2 separate regions of the Homo sapiens genome follow, and region 1 is linked to region 2. The links come from fine-mapping of genetic effects on gene expression. Tissue or cell type: whole blood. Region 2 holds a variant in brackets; the other region holds the start of a gene. All regions are shown on one strand. Distances are from middle to middle.

The links. PIP is the estimated chance that this variant, and not a neighbour inherited with it, causes the effect.
Region 1: it holds the start of SPG11, and the variant in region 2 is fine-mapped to the expression of SPG11 in whole blood (TOPMed, PIP 0.98).

What each region holds. Positions count from the first base shown.
Region 1 is chr15:44,661,570-44,665,569 of GRCh38, forward strand. It overlaps SPG11 (SPG11 vesicle trafficking associated, spatacsin), which reads right to left and starts at 2,093. Exons shown (of 40, transcript NM_025137.4): 1 at 1,822-2,093. The coding sequence starts at 2,078. RefSeq lists enhancers at 1,188-1,327, 1,437-2,393, 1,868-2,347, 2,388-2,557.
Region 2 is chr15:44,724,997-44,729,346 of GRCh38, forward strand. It overlaps the pseudogene RNF4BP. Among named protein-coding and RNA genes, the nearest start is that of MIR10393, 9.3 kb to the left of the region's middle. RefSeq lists enhancers at 1,595-1,889, 2,913-3,900, 3,901-4,350. The variant C/T (reference allele first, on the strand shown) is at 1,711.

The DNA.
Region 1 (4,000 bases), 64 kb before region 2:
ACTATAGTAGTTTTATACTATTATAGTATTAATATGTCCTTATTAGGTAAAAAAAAGACATTTTTCTGACTGTTCATATTGATAAATGTAGAAAATAACCTAAATGTCAAATATACAAAAGGTTAAACTAAGATATACTTAAAAGGTAGAGTACATCATTAGCATAGGGACAATATTGCCACATGGAAAGACAGGAAATTTTCAATGCAATAAACAAGATATATGATGTAATTTCAACAATATTAAAAAGACCTATGTACTTTGAAAAAGTAGGAAGTAAACTCTAAATACTATAAACATGCCCTTATTTTTAACCTATGAAGTATTTTAACTGAATTAAAATTCAATTCAACTAAAAAAGTTAAAAAGTCCTTTCTTGGTCCTCCTCCCCTCTAATTTCATGAACTAGCATATGAACGCCCCCTTTATTTCATCTCGGTCTTACCTTCCCTGCTGGGTTCTCAAACACCTAAAGATTTCGGCTTTTCTTTGCCCCATTCCTCTCTTTACAGAGCCACATTCATAGGTACTTGATACTGCTAAATAAACTAATTTCCCCTAAACTAGTTTATAAATAACTTAGTTTATAATAAGTTTATAAACTAAACGCAGAGATTCCTCTTTCGAGCAACTAGACATCAAGGGTAGAGAAGACAAACCCAGAAGAGTTAAGCATTCACTGATGTATCAAATGAATCTCTAAATGTCAGGAGCTGTTAGAGGAGCTGGAGATTCCAAGATTAATAAGACACCTTTTGGCTACTCATCTTAAAGAAAGAGTTGTGAAAATACTTACTATTAATAATTATTAAAAGAACAGGTCAGGCTCAGTGGCTCACACCTGTAATCCCAACACTTTGGCAGGGAGAGGCGGGATCACTTGAGCCCAGGAGCTTGAGACTAGCCTAGGCAACACAGTGAGACCTCATCTCTACAAAAACTAGAAAAATTAGCCAGGCCTGGTGGTGCACGCCTGTAGTCGTAGCTGCTGGGGAGGCTGAGCCCGGGAGGTCAAGGCTGGCTGCCGTGAACCGTGACTGAGCCACTACACTCCAGCCTGGGCGACAGCGACCTTATCTTTAAAAAAAAAAAAAAAAAAAAAAAAGCAGCAGCCCACTCAAAACACTAAGAGGGCGTTCCCAAACTTTATGATGTAAACTCTTAAGTACTGAACCAAGAGTTACGGAAGTACAAAGTAATGCATTATTGTAATCATGTTTGTCTTCCCCAAACATGCGCGCCTCGCAAGAAAGAAGTGTCTTACTCAACTTTTTAGGCACTGCTCCTATGTAACAGCAAGCACACAATATTTGCTGAATAAATGAAGGGACAAACTGGACTCTGTCCTTGAAGAAGAGGACTACATGTGAAAGAAAACGCTATTCACTTCAAGGACATGAAAAAAGTATCAGGATGATTCAAATTAGAGATGATCCTCAGCTGGCATCTTTAACTGAAAGAAATGGGCATGGGACTCGACCCTGTGACAGTTAATCAACCTGTGTTGAATAATGAAAGAATCAGCGCCTCAGCTGAGACCCGTTCCGGGTTCGCCGCAGGTGGCAATGGAGCTGGGTGCCGTCTCCGCCCACCCGGAACAGGAGAGCTGGGCTGCCAGAATGCAACGAGGCGAGCGTTTCAGGTCGGGGGAAAGGTTCTGTGAGGAAACCACGCTCGCCTCTGGGGCGTTTCCTGCAGCTGGCACCCTTCTCCCGCCACCTCTATGGCTGCAGGGAGGCCTCGGCGTGAGCCCTTGGGGCTCAGTCAGCCGAGCCTAGGCTCTGGACTCCCCCAACGGCCCAACTCTCCCTCAGCACTTACTGCCAGAAGGGGCCCTCCAGGCAGCAGCGACCCCCGCCCCGGCTGCCAGGCGTCAAAGAAAGCACTTGGAGGCTGCCCGCAGCCGTCAGGCTCCCCAGAGCCTCCGGCTGTGTGCGCAGCTGCGCCCGGGAGCCGAGCTGCCCCATCGCCTCGGCGGGGACTGGCACCAACAGCATCGGTAGAACCCGCCCCATGGCCGCGGTGCCCCAGCTACCGCCGGCGGAAGCAGCACTCGCGACCCCTTCCTCTGCAGCCATCTTGGCCCGGCGGTTACTTCCGGTCACTTTCGCCGGAACCTGACTGCGTCGTGGGCATGCGCGGTGTACGTAGCGGCTCCCGCTCGGCCTCGTGACTCCCGCGGAGACCTCTCGGCTGTCTCCGGTCGATTCCATTCGTTTCCTGTGGGGGGCAGTACCAGCCTCTCTAGCAAAGCCACATCTGCCCTGACGCCAGTCCCACTCTGCTTAACTGCTCTGGCATGCTTGAAGGCCTAGCTTAGCGTAGCAGGCCGTTGCAGCCGTTCTCGCTCTGTGGCATTGCTCTTTGCCTTCTTGGTCCAGCTGCCTCCAGCTCCCTTGGAACCCAGTTCCTGCCTCTTTTCTTCGCTTTTCTTATTGTGCTGTTCGCTTACAGGCTCTGGGGTGGTGCCATTTCCTTGGTAGCATGGACCGTCTTACAGTGTGGATCCATAGTAAGGGTGTTGACCCGAAATTTGAAGTCAAATAATATCCATTGTAACAGTCAGAGAGACGGGGTAAGTAAGGGGTGGAGATGGTAGAGAGCTCCTGTCTGTTTTCTCAGGGAAGTATGATCCAAGATCAAGAGAAGGAGAGGAGCAAAGAGTTTGAGGTGAGAAGAGGGGTTGAATAGGTATTTTGGTAAAGTCTCCTAAAAGACAACTGTACCTTCTTAACACATCTTCCACATTCAGAACATTTCAGCATAAATGTAACCTCTATTGACAGGCCTCCCCAAGCCATTCAACCTAAGGTCCCTTCTACTGCAGTCTCTCACCTAGTTTTGTTTTTAATCATAGTATTTATCACTACTTGATATTTTCTGCCAGTTCCTGTCCAATAAGAATGTAAACTTCAAAAGAGCAAGGACTTTGTTGCTCACCACTGTCCTGGCTAGTACCTAAAACAGTGCATGTTTCATGAAAGGTACTCCCGCATTTGTTGATCAATGCATGACCTTATTTGTCAAAATAAAAGCAAACTTTTTTTTTCTTTTGAGATGGAGTCTCGCTTTGTCACTCAGGCTGGAGTGCAGTGGCGGGATCTCGGCTCACTGCAACCTCCGCCTCCTGGGCTCAAGCAATTCTGCCTCAGCCTTCCCAGTAGCTGGGATTACAGGCGCACGCCACACCCAGCTAAATTTTTGTATTTTAGTAGAGACGGGGTTTCACCATGTTGGCCAGGCTGGTTTCGAATTCCTGACCTCCGGTGATTTACCTGTCCCAGCCTGGAAGTGCTAAGATTACAGACGTGAGCCACCGTGCCCAGCTGAAACCAAACGTTTTCTATCACAAGGGAGATATATTCAACCTTCTAAGCTTAGCTGGGGCTGTGTTCTTTCTGTAAAAAATGGCAACGTTAAAGCAATTTCTAAGGTTACACTTGTGTTAGCTACAACAAAGCCTTGTCCCTTATAATCAGGACAGTCTTCTCATGCCTGTAAATCCCAGCACTTTGGGAGGCCAAGTTGGGAGGATCACTGGAGCCCACCCTTGCCAACATAGGGAGACCCTTGTCTCTACAAAAAAAATCAAAAAAAATTTTTTTTGAGAGTTTTGCTCTTGTTGTCCAGGCTGGAGTGCAATGGCACAGTCTTGGCTCACTGCAACCTCTAACCTCTGCCTCCTGGGTTCAAGCGATTCCCCTGCCTCAGCCTCCGAGTAGCTGGGATTACAGGCGTGTGCCACCATGCCTGGCTGATTTTGTATTTTTAGTAGAGACGCGGTTTCTTCACGTTGGTCAGGCTGTTCTCAAACTCCCGACCCTCAGGTGATCTGCCCACCTCGGCCTCCCAGAGTGCTGGGATTACAGGCATGAGCCACTGCACCTGGCCAAAAAAAATTTTTTTTTAATATTAGCTGGGTGTGGTGTCACATGCCTATAATCCAAGCTACTCAGAAGACTGAGGTGGGAGGATCACTTGAGCCTGGAGGTCAATGCTG
Region 2 (4,350 bases):
CTGGAGGATCGCATGAGCCCAGGAGTTTGAGACCAGCCTGGGCAACATAGTGAGTCCTCCTCTCTACAAAATCAAACAAACAAAAATTAGCTGGGTGTGGTAGCACACACCTGTGGTCCCAGCTACTTGGAAGGCGGAGGCAGGAGGATTGTTTGAACCCAGGAGGAGTTTAAGAGCAGTCTGGGCAATATAGTGAGACCTCATATCTGTCTATCTATGTATCTATGTATCTATGTATCTATGTATCTATCTATCTATCTATCTATCTAAAATAAATTAAATTAAAAAATAAAAAATAATGAGGCAAAGAAAAGAAAGTTAATCCTCAATATAACAGTATTAAGAAGTAGGGCATTTAAGAGGTGACTGGGTCATGAGGGCTCCTTCATGAATGGATTAATGGATTAATGGGTTATCCTGAGAATGGGTCTGTTATAAAAGCCAGTTTCGCTCTTTCTCTTGTGCCCCTCTAAATCTTTATCTTTAGCCATGTTATGATGCCTCTCTGATATCTTTACCCATGTTATGATGCGGAACAAAGCCCTCACCCAAAGCAAACCAGATACAGCCCCTCAATGTTGAACTTCTCAGCCTCTTCCATACATTTTTCTTCCTTTCTTTTTTTTGAGATAGGATCTTGCTCTGCCATTGTGCCATTGCAGCCTCAAACTCTTGGGCTCAAGTGATCCTGCTGCTTCAGCATCCTGAGTAGCGGGGCTTACAGATGCACACCCCCATGCATCACTAATTTTTTTTTTTTTTTTTGAGATGGAGTCTTGCTAGGTCACCCAGGCTGGAGTGCAGTGGTGCGATCTCGGCTCACTGCAACCTCTGCCTCCTGGGTTCACACCATTCTCCTGCCTCAGCCTCCCAAGTAGCTGGGACTACAGGTGCCTGCCACCACGCCAGGTTAATTTTTTGTATTTTTAGTAGAGACAGGGTTTCACCGTGTTAGCCAGGATGGTCTCGATCTCCTGACCTCATGATCCACCCATCTTGGCCTCCCAAAGTGCTGGGATTACAGGCATGAACCACTGCGCCCGGCCGCATCGCTAGTTTTTAAAAACTTTTTGTAGAGACAGATTCTTACTATGTTGCCAAGGCTGGTCTCAAACTCCTGGCCTCAAGAGATCCTCCAGTCTTCGGCCTCCCAAAAAGATGGGATTACAGGCATGAGCCACCTCACCTGGCCTCTTTTTTTTGTATATTACCTGATCTCAGGTATTCTGCTATAGCAACAGAAAGACGAAGACAGAATCCTTAGCTGTCTGCAAGTGTGCATGCCATTTTCATCATCTGAAGAGTCAGCGAGTGTCTTAGGTGGAGTCTTGCAAAAGCAGGCCCTGAGCCAAAGATTTGGATGCAAATGACTTGTTAAGAAAGGGCTCTTCGAGACCGTGCCATTGCACTCCAGCCCGGGCAAGAAGAGTGAAACTCTGTTTCAAAAAAAAAAAAGTGGGGGGCTCCTAGGAAAAGAACAGTAAAGGAGTGGGGGATGAAGGACAGGGAATGGGAAGAAGCCAAGCGAGAGCATGATTTCCGAAGTCCTACACTCAGCCTGATCACACGGGAAGCTTTAGAACAAAGAACACACCTCAGAGTTTTTCCTGCCTCAACACAAAGGAGCTGGGCTTTGGTGCTCTTCATCAGCCTGTCTTTGGCTATCCAGGGTTGTGGAACGAGGTGAAACATAAAACTCCGAGGTACTTC[C/T]GGCTCCCTCCAGTGTCTGAGGGTAATCTGCAGGACTGAGGGTAATTGCAGATGCTAGCTGTTAGCAGCAAACTATGCAAAAGCTGAGGACTGGCTTATAAAGCCAGATCTGGGTGAGTCATGTTTCCTGTCAACATCCTCTGCTGGGCCCATAACACATGCAACCCCAAACTTCCATTACAAGTTCAAAGTTTCTAAGGGGATAGCATTACAGTGTGTATGATATTGGACTCAGACCTGAGTTTGAATCCTAATTCCACAAAAGAAATTGGAAAAGAGTCATATTGCTGACTTGACCCTTTGTCACCATATCCATAAAATGGGATAATTATTCCTATATCATAAATTTACTTATTTATTCACTTAGTCATTTGTTAAATAAATATGGAGTGTCTACTTTGTGCCGGGCACTCTTTTTAGGGTGGTTCTGAGAAGGGGATGGCAATGAGAAGGGCTCTCTAAGATGCAAGACTCCAGGCAACTGCTTTTACTTCCAGTGGTTCTTTATTTTCACAGCTCATTAGAGCAAATTACCACAGCAGGGAGATACAGGTTGAGTATCCCTTATCCGAAAAGCCTGGCACCAGAAGTGTTTTAAATTTTGGATTTTTTTTTGATTTTTGGAATATTTGTTAATTATCAGTTGAGCATCTCTAATGTGAAAATCTAAAATCCAAAATGCCCCAGTGACCCTTTCCTTTGAGCATCATGTTGGTGCTCAAAAAGTTTGAGATGTTGGAGCATTTAGGATTTCAGATTTTTGGATTAAGGATACTCATTTTGTACAATGGAAAACTTCTTGGCACTAATCTGATGAAAGAAGAAACTACGGGAGAATCCCTTTCCCTAAAAGGCTTTCAGTAACAAGATGGCCCTGACTCATTCTGGACAGTTCCTCCAAAGGTAGGCCTACAGGTAGAACTCTTTTCTGGCAGCATAGGGGTTTTCCAGAATGAAGGTGTATTTTTTTTTTACTGAGGCCAGGAAAGGTGAAGAGAATGAAGGGTTCCTAGTGACGATGCAGCAACCAAGTCATTTATGTAATGGAGCCTTATCTGACAGATTTCTAGGATAGAAACTCAGTATCCAAGCTCAGGCTTGGCAGACTGAGGTGGGCACCGTCCCCAGGATTGCAGTGTGGATTAGAGGTTTCAACCCCAATCATATTCAACAGCTCCCTTTCCCCCAACAACCCCTTTTTATAACAATTGTTTTGTGGTGATTCTTTTACTAATATGATCATGAAAATTAAGTAATTTAGCTTGTGAATGCTCTAGCTTGGCTGCACTGCTGGTATAAAGAAGTGCCAGACACTTGCAACTGCCTAGGATCTCTGTGAACCAGCGGCATGGAAGACTGAGAGGCACGCTGGATTGATGGCTCAGATTCAAGTATGGTATTGCAGGTTCTGGTGTAATTTTCTAAAATGGCGAAAATCTCTAGGTAAAACTCCAAAAATAAAAAACCAACATACATCTTCCTTTGAGTTACCTGGTAGTTATATTCCTGGAAAATTCAGTGTATATGAGCCTGAGGTAGTAGATGGTCAATAAATACTCAAGAAATAAAAAAATAAAAAAATATAAAAATATAAAACACATTTCTTACATGTCCTTGGTGCTTGTAAGCCCAGATTATATGCAGGCTTTTTTTTGGACGGAGTCTCTGTTGCCCAGGCTGGAGTGAAGTGGCGAGATCTGGGCTCACTGCAACCTCCACCTCCTGGGTTCAAGCGATCCTCCTGCCTCAGCCTCCTGAGTAGCTGGGATTACAGGCACGCGCCACCACCCTCAGCTGATCTTTGTATTTTTAGTAGAGAAGGGGTTTCACCATGTTGGCCAGGCTGATGTAGAACTCCTGACCTCAAGTGATCCGCCCACCTCGGCCTCCCAAAGTGTTGGGATTACAGGCGTGAGTCACAGCGCCCGGCTGCTTTTTTATACATTAAGTGTGCTTGCAGAGGACTGCGACCTCTGGCCCTCGGCCTCTTAATAAATACTCCAAGTGACTTCATTGGAACAACCACTGAGAATCACTTATCTAGAGAGTGGGAAGTTGCTGATCTCATCACTGCATGGGGTGGGGTGAGGGAAGCAACCCTGCCCTTCCCCTTTCTCGGAAAGCAGCTGGCTTTGAAGAAAGAGAAACCAGGACGGGAAAGTCCTGATTTCTAATCTGAAACAGCGCTTTTTGTCCAGAGACCGGTGACGAGCGACCCTGGGCTCGGGTTTTGATTGGGCAGTTCGGAAACTGTAAAAGCGAATTAAAAGGGTGACAAGCTAGTGTTTTAGCCTATCCAGTTCCGGGAGTTTGCACGCAGACGCTCTGCTTCGTGACCTTGGCTCTGCTCTGTGGGCGCCGCCCCCAGCCTGGGCGCGTCCATCGTCGAGTACCTTCTCCTCTGCCTCCCCCTCCCTCTGCTTCTATCTCTCTCCAATTGCCCTCCCTGGCCTGCGGCCGCCCGGTCCTCCTTCCCAGCCCAGTGCAGCCAGGCACCCGGGTTCGGCTTGCTCAGGTCTCTGTCCGGGACTGGGAAGCCACGGAGGGCCGGGAAAGTGGCACACTCCTGGAGCTCAAGCTTCCTACTCTCTCATCGCTGAATAACTACCGGGCAGGACTGGGTGGAACAGACAGCATATT